Linked DNA regions of Homo sapiens. The protein of the gene in region 1 interacts with the protein of each later gene in a pairwise test. Each region holds a gene or a part of one and is shown in the gene's direction. Other genes may lie near its edges. The genes, in order: MCMBP and SMC3.

Region 1 (3,822 bases):
GCCATGTGTGGCTATTTAAATGTAAATTAATTAAAATTACACAAAATTAAAAATTCACCTCCTCGGTGTTAGCACATTTCAAGTGCTCAGTAGCTACATGTGGATAGGGGCTATTATATTAGCACAGATCTAGCATATTCCTAACATCAGGAAGTTCTCTGTACAGCACTGATCTAGAGGACACCGCTTTTTAGTATGTGATGCTAGTTTTTTTGGATAACCAGCTACTCACTGACTCTCTTTCAGGATCTGAATTTGGTCACTGTATCTTATCCGTTCTAGGGGTTTTGTTTTTGTTTTTGCTTTTTTTGTTTTTGAGATGGAGTTTCGTTCTTGTCACCCAGGCTGGAGTGCAACAGTGTGATCTCGGCTCACTGCAACCTCCTCCTCCCAGGTTCAAGCAATTCTGCCTCAGCCTCTGGAGTAGCTGGGATTACAAGTGCCTGCCACCATGCCCAGCTAATTTTTTTTTTTTTGAGACTGAGTCTTGCTCTGTCACTCAGGCTAGGGCGCAGTGTTACAATCTTGGCTCACTGCAGCCTCTGCCTCTTGGGTTCAAGTGATTCTCCTGCCTCAGCCCCCTGAGTAGCTGGGATTACAGGTGCATGCCACCATGCCCAGCTAATTTTTGTATTTTTAGTAAAGACAGGGTTTCACCATGTTGGCCAGGCTGGTCTTGAACTCCTGACCTAGTGATCCGCCCACCTTGGCCTCCCAAAGTGCTGGGATTGTAGGCGTGAGCCACCACACCGAGCCGCTAATTTTTGTATTTTTAGTAGAGACAGGATTTCACCATGTTAGCAAGGCTGGTCTCGAACAGGTGATCTGCCTGCCTCGGCCTCTCAAAGTGCTGGGATTATAGGCGTGAGCCACCGCGCCCGACCCAGACCCTCATCTCCAATGCTACTGTCAAAATTAAAGCCATCGTAGTCTCTTTCCTGGACGCTGGAACAGCCCTCTAACTGGTTTCTTGCCTCCAGTCTTGCTTCTCTTCCACCTGCCATACTGGAACCAAGTCCTTCAGTGACTTCTTGTTACCCTTACTATCTGATCCAGGACTTTTAAAGTGGTTTATGAGGCCCTTGTTGGCTCCACCCTTGCCTTGCTCTGAGACTTTATCACTGCGTACCCCCTCCTCATACTCCATCCCAGCCGCACTGAACCTTTTTTCAGTTCTTTAATTTTGAACCTGTGTCTAGGCCTTTTTGCATCTGCTGATTTCTTGTGCCTGATTCCCCCTCCCATCCCATGTCCACTTTTCTGGCTAAGTCTTACTTTTCCTTTGGGAACTTAAGTTAGGTACCAAAGTAGGGTACCCCTGCTCCATGTTACTGCAGGATCCTATTATATATGTCTTTGAAAAATAGTGTGTAAAGTGCATTGTTGAAATTCCTTGTTTCGGAAGTTCCTTTGCTGGATTTTGACCCCGCGAATTCAGGGCCCCTGTATCTGCATTATTCACCACTGTATCCTAATTTCTTAGAATTTGCCTTGTACATTGAAAGTGCTCAGTGGACACTTGTTGAACAAAAGCAGTGAAAAGACTGATTAATCAGAAATGTTGTTAATTGAAATGGCTAGTGAGATCACAAATCTCAAAATTTTTCTTTTCTTTTTTTCTGGAGTCAGTGTCTTGCTCTGTTGCCCAGGGTGGAGTGCAGTGGCGTGATCTCGGCTCACTGCAACCTCCGCCTTCTGGGTTCAAGCCATTCTCATGCCTCAGCCTCTCGAGTAGCTGGGATTAAAAGTGTGCACCACCATGCCTGGCTAATTTTTCTATTTTTAATAGAGACAGGGTTTTGCCATGTTGGCCAGGCTGGTCTTGAACTCCTGGCCTCAAGTGATCTGCCCCCACTTGGCCTCCCAGAGTGCTGAGATCTCAGGTGTGAGCTGCTGCGCCCAGCCTCTTTAGCTGTTTTCCCTTCAACTATTGGTTAGACCAAGATCATTATTCTCGTTATATTTAAGCTTCTTTGGTTGTATCTAACAGAACTAGACTAGCTCATGCAAAAAAGAGCAGGGTTGGGTGAAGAGGGGCAGAGCAGACTATTTTATCACTAGCATTTTAGAGAATTTAAAGCAATAATAAAATGAACTAAAAGTTAGTTGGTCTGCTTTTTATTATCACCATGAATCTAAACAGACAATCTGTGCCCTTATTGTCTGTACCCAGCTTGGACCTCTTCTACCACTCTGTCCTTGGTAGGCCACTGAAAAAAGTTAATTTATATTAAGGCTATAAAACCCAAGAACAGGGGAAGTGGTTGGGTATTCGAAGAGACTGAGTGGAATCAGGAACTGGAAAGCTAGCAGGAATCCAAGCAACTCAGTATTTCTTCTCTTGGGATACATTAATCTCTGCACACTTTCTCTTTCTCTACTCCATGTCTCCCAAATTTACTTGTTCTCGGTTCCAACCCACGCTAGCTAGCATCTTTATTTTCAGGCATAGAAAATCTGATTGGCACAACATGGAGTCAGGAATCCATTCACTCAGGGATCAGTCATCTGTGGCCATGGCACAGAGTTAGGTAGGACAATCGTGACTGTTATCCACACCTCAACATTGGGGGCGTTCTCAAAGAAGAAGAATAGCTCCGGCAGCCATGGCAGATGGCATACGTAGGAGTTTTTAAGTTATAATAACTTACACATGGTTTTAAAAAAAATCAACATGATGGTATGAACTGAGTGAAAGTACGTGCTCCCTCCATTGAAGTAACCACTTTTTTTTTTTTTTTTTTTTTTTTTTTTTGAGATGGAGTCTCGCTCTGTCGCCCAGGCTGGAGGGCAGTGGTGCGATTTCGGCTCACTGCAACCTCTCCCTCCCAGGTTCAAGCGATTCTCATGCCTCAGCCTCTTGAGTAGCTGGGACTACAGGCGACCACCACCACACCTGGCTAATTTTTGCATTTTTAGTAGAGTCGGGGCTTCACCGTGTTGGCCAGGATGGTCTCGACCTCCTCTGCCCTCGTGATCCACCACCCTCGGCCTCCCAAAGTGCTGGGATTAGAGGCATGAGCCACCGTGCCCTGCCTGAAGTAACCGCTTTTAACTGTTTTTGCTTTTAGAGGTTTTTTTCTTTGAGACAGAGTCTCGCTCTGTCACCCAGGCTAGAGTGCAGTGGCACGATCTCTGCTCACTGCAACCTCTACCTCCCAGGTTCAAGCAGTTCTACTGCCTCAGCCTCCCGAGTAGTTGGGACTACAGGCGCCTGCCACCACACCCAGCTAACTTTTTGTATTTTCGTAGAGATGGTGTTTCACTATGTTGCTCAGGCTGGTCCAAAAAAATTTTTTTTCTTTGAAATAAAATTCACATAACAAAATTTAACATTTTAAAATGTACAATTGAATTTTTTTTACTGTATTCATAATGATGTTGTGCAACCATCACCACCACTATCTTTTTCTCTTTTTTTTGAGACGGAGTCTCACTCTGTTGCCCAGGCTGGAGTGCAGTGGTGCAAACTTGGCTCACTGCAACCTCTGCTTACCGGGTTCAAGCGATTCTCTTGCCTCAGCCTCCCAAGTAGCTGGGATCACAAGCATGCACCACCATTCCTGGCTAATTTTTGTATTTTTAGTAGAGACGGAGTTTTACCATGTTGGTCAGGCTGCTCTTGAACTCCTGATCTCAGGTGATCCACACGCCTCGGCCTCCCAAAGTGTTGGGATTACAGGCATGAGCCACCACGCCCGGCCACCCCTATCATTTTCATCACTCCAAAAAGAAACCCCATACCTTTAGTAGTCTCTCCCATTTCTTCTGTCTTCCATCTCTGGCAACAACTATACTTCTGCCCATGGATTTACCTATTCT
Region 2 (3,822 bases), 9.3 Mb from region 1:
AGTATTGTTTTGGAAAATTGTTCATCTTTCTTATTTCACCTTTTTGAAAACGTTTTCTAAACCAATCATCTTTGTAAAGGATGAAGAGGTATAAAAAACTTGAAACTGAACAGACTGTTGTCACTTTGAAGATAGTAAATAGAGCTTCAAAAATTCTCTCTAAATTGCATTTAAGTGTAAATAGCAATGCGTCTGTTAACAAATCCTTTGAGGAGAAAAACATTTTAACAAAATTAGACAGTTAAGGAGTAGGTTGAAAAATTTGAACTTTTTAGTTGGGTAATGCTTGAGGGAAAGGGGCATTTAGTGGACTGGCTTAGTAAGAACAAAGGTTCTATCTCTTCTGTGCACACGAATCTGAAAGGCACTCTCTAGCCTGTATATCCTATTGTGGTTGTAATTTGGCAATGATGAGAGAATGGACTGAAGTGGAAGTATTTCAGAATCTCCAGGGCAGTGTGAAGTCTCCTCACCTCGACCTGTGTCCACAGCACACACATTAATGCTTATGCACGTACTTGCTGATGTGGGCACCCCCACCACCTCCACACACACACAGTGCCAGAGGTCTCTTGGGTGGACTGGGACAAGAACAGCTGAGTAAAGAGTTCCACTTCCTAGGCAGGGTGGTCCAGTTAGGTACTCTATACCGAAGTAGGAACGGCCCCTTCTTACAGAGCTCGGTATAGTATAAGAAGTGTAGTATAAGTTGGGCATCTCAAACATTTCCCTGTATTTCCTTAGTTTTATTTCTTTTGGTAAAGTATCCACTTAAGCATATTCTCAAAATACATCCTATTTTGTTAAAAAGGATTTTAACTCATATCATTTATGTCTAGTGGGGAAAAAAGCAAATACAGTGTTAACCTAATCCAGTCAGTGAACACTTTGAGCCAGAGGTATACCTTAGTTTTGCTTGTCTGTTTTCATGTATTTCGGTGGTTTCTCTTTATTTCCTTACCTTAAATGTTTCAATGAAAACTTCTCAGTATTTTTCTTATATCATTTCCTACCTGATTAGTCTGATGTGCAGGCACATTTTCTGCATTTCCTTTTGTCCATATGAAACAGATAATTTATTTGCATTGTCTATTACCAGACACACTATGTTCTATTGAGGTGTGGGAAGTTATAAATAAGTTATAAACACTTTTTTAGGGTATACTAATAGTTGTTTTTGTATTTCCAGCAATTCAGTTTGTTCTCAGTGATGAGTTTAGTCATCTTCGTCCAGAACAGCGGTTGGCTTTATTGCATGTGAGTGAGACTGCTTTAAGACATTATTGATATTACATATATTTTAAAAATAAATTTTCCATGCTGGTTAAAAAAGCATTTGTTCAAGTTTCAGATTCTTTGTGAACAAGACACAATCTTTCTCATAAGTGTGTTACTCTGCTGTGAAATTTAGCCTAACATATTAATGCCAGATAAAAGCCCAATTTTTATACAGTGGTTTAGGAGAAAATTATAGGATTTGCCTATAGATGGATATGTCCTCCATATAAATGTCTTAAAGGAGACATGATATATATCATAAGTGTTTTATTCTGCTGTGAAATTTAGCCTAACATGTTAATGCCAGATAAAGGCCTAATTTTTATGTGATGGTTAGGAGAAAATTATAGGATTTGCCTATAGGTGGGTATGTCCTCCATGTACATTTCTTTAAGGATGTGATCTGCAAAGGCTTAAGAAGCAGGTTTGCTGAGGAGAAAGAAGAGTTTGAGGTTGCAGATTAGGAACTTTAAGATGCAGAACCAAAAATTAATTGGGAACATAGAGAAACAACCATTGCAAACTAAACAACATACAAGTTGTTTGTTGTTTTAGCCATATTTGTACTTAGATAGTAAACATCATTTTCCAGTATGAAAAACAGTAGAGATGTTCTGCAACTTACAGCGGGGTTATGTCCTAATAAACCTATCATAAACTGAAAATACCATAAGTCAAAAATGGACATTAGCCTACAGTTGAGCAAAATGATCTAACACAAAAGTCTGTTTTATAATAAAGTGTTGAATCTGTCATATAATTTATTGAATACTATGCTGAAAGTAAAAAACAGTGATTTTATGGATACTCAAATTATGGTTTCTACTGAATGTAGACTGCTATCACGTTGTCATTCAGCCATTTGTTGAACCATCGTAAGTTGGGGACCACCTGTATATTTACAGTAATGTGAGTTAGGATATTTTATTAAGTGGGTCCTTTTGTAATGCATAAGCACGATGATTGGGTTTTCGTGTTCATGTGAGTCATGCCTCCCTCAAACCTTGTTAGGACATTGGCACATTACCAATGTGATGTGGAAAAAAATATGAGTAATGGACTAAAGTAATTTTAGGATAGAAAATCATGAAAGACTACAATAAAACGATTAATCCTTCTGATTTGAATATTGTTTATTAAAGACTAGAAAATGAAATTCCTCAACATGTCTTAACAGTGTTTCTCACACATAGGAAATTGTTTTGTTTAGCTCTTGTCTGTCTTTTCCCCTTGTTTAGTTTGAATTTGTAGCCCAGTAATCAGAATTGATTTCCTTTAGAAAAATTCTTTTTAGGTTTTTCAGATTGGCATTAAAATAATTAATAACCTCTTTGGTACAGTTCTTCATTGTATTTACTACATAGTTTCTATAATCTGGAAGGTATCTGGACTTGGTACCATAGTTTTTGTGTCATAGATTGGTTTAAATGTGACACATGTTAAATGTGTATATTTCTATAATAGATTTAAAACTGTAGAATGTCTCAATTTTTCTTAAAAAACAGACTTTTGGTAATTATCCCATGATTTATTAGGATTTCTTTGCAGCATTAAAATGAGACTGTAAGAGAAAAGCCTCATGGTGTATTAGATATTAGCAAATAGGTAGAGTTAAATGTCCCCAGTCTTGCAGTCTAATAAAGTGGTCTGTAGAATCATATTTAAGGATATCTAACTTTGACATGTCTTGCATAGCTCTTATTTTTTATTTAGAATCAAAAGCTATTTGGTTGAGAAGTTTTGTTGTCCTAATCTAACGTCTCTGCTGTTTTGGCAAGAGGGATATATACTATAACTCTGGGGATATCCCCAAAGTATGTATCCCTCTTGCCAAAAGAGCAGAGACGTTAGATTAGTGTGTGTGTGTATATATGAATCTAGCAGAAATTTTTCTCCATTGAATCAGACTTGTTATTATGCCCTAGACTTTAAGAATCCTTTAAAGGATATGAATATACAACTTAAATGGCAAATTTCTCACTTCTTTCATTTTTAGGAAGGTACTGGTCCTCGTGTTATTTCTGCTTTTGTGGAGATTATTTTTGATAATTCAGACAACCGGTTACCAGTAAGTAACTTTTTTTTTAAAGTAATGTTGAGAATTTAATTGGTTTAGCTGATTTTCTTCATACTTTGAAACTTTTTAAGCTTTTATAATTTGTTATAATTACAGTTTATATACTGATTTTATCTTAAAATGACAATGAATACTCTGTTAACAAATGGGAATGTACAAACTGTTGTGAAAAGTGTCTTGGTTAAGAGTATTGAGTATTTGTAGTATTATTTTTAGTGAGATAATTGAAATTTTAAAATAAATACTTATGGGCAAGGACTTTAAAATGACCTTATTTAAAAAGTTTTCTCCTTTACTATTAAATTAACTGTGGGCTTTTACATTTTTTCTTAGATCGATAAAGAGGAAGTTTCACTTCGAAGAGTTATTGGTGCCAAAAAGGATCAGTATTTCTTAGACAAGAAGATGGTCACGTAAGCATTTTTCTTTTTTTTAAAAAAACTGAATATGTACTTAAATAGAGATGG

Evidence for each region.
Region 2: the proteins of MCMBP (region 1) and SMC3 interact in binary tests that used the Homo sapiens proteins (3 or more experiments, as listed by UniProt).

What each region holds. Positions count from the first base shown.
Region 1 is NC_000010.11:119,866,226-119,870,047, reverse strand, and holds part of MCMBP (mini-chromosome maintenance complex-binding protein), read left to right. Parts: intron 1-3,822. UniProt on the Homo sapiens protein: Associated component of the MCM complex that acts as a regulator of DNA replication.
Region 2 is NC_000010.11:110,574,147-110,577,968, forward strand, and holds part of SMC3 (structural maintenance of chromosomes protein 3), read left to right. Parts: intron 1-1,189; coding exon 1,190-1,257; intron 1,258-2,213; exon of another isoform or gene 2,214-2,315; intron 2,316-3,274; coding exon 3,275-3,346; intron 3,347-3,688; coding exon 3,689-3,768; intron 3,769-3,822. UniProt on the Homo sapiens protein: Central component of cohesin, a complex required for chromosome cohesion during the cell cycle. The cohesin complex may form a large proteinaceous ring within which sister chromatids can be trapped.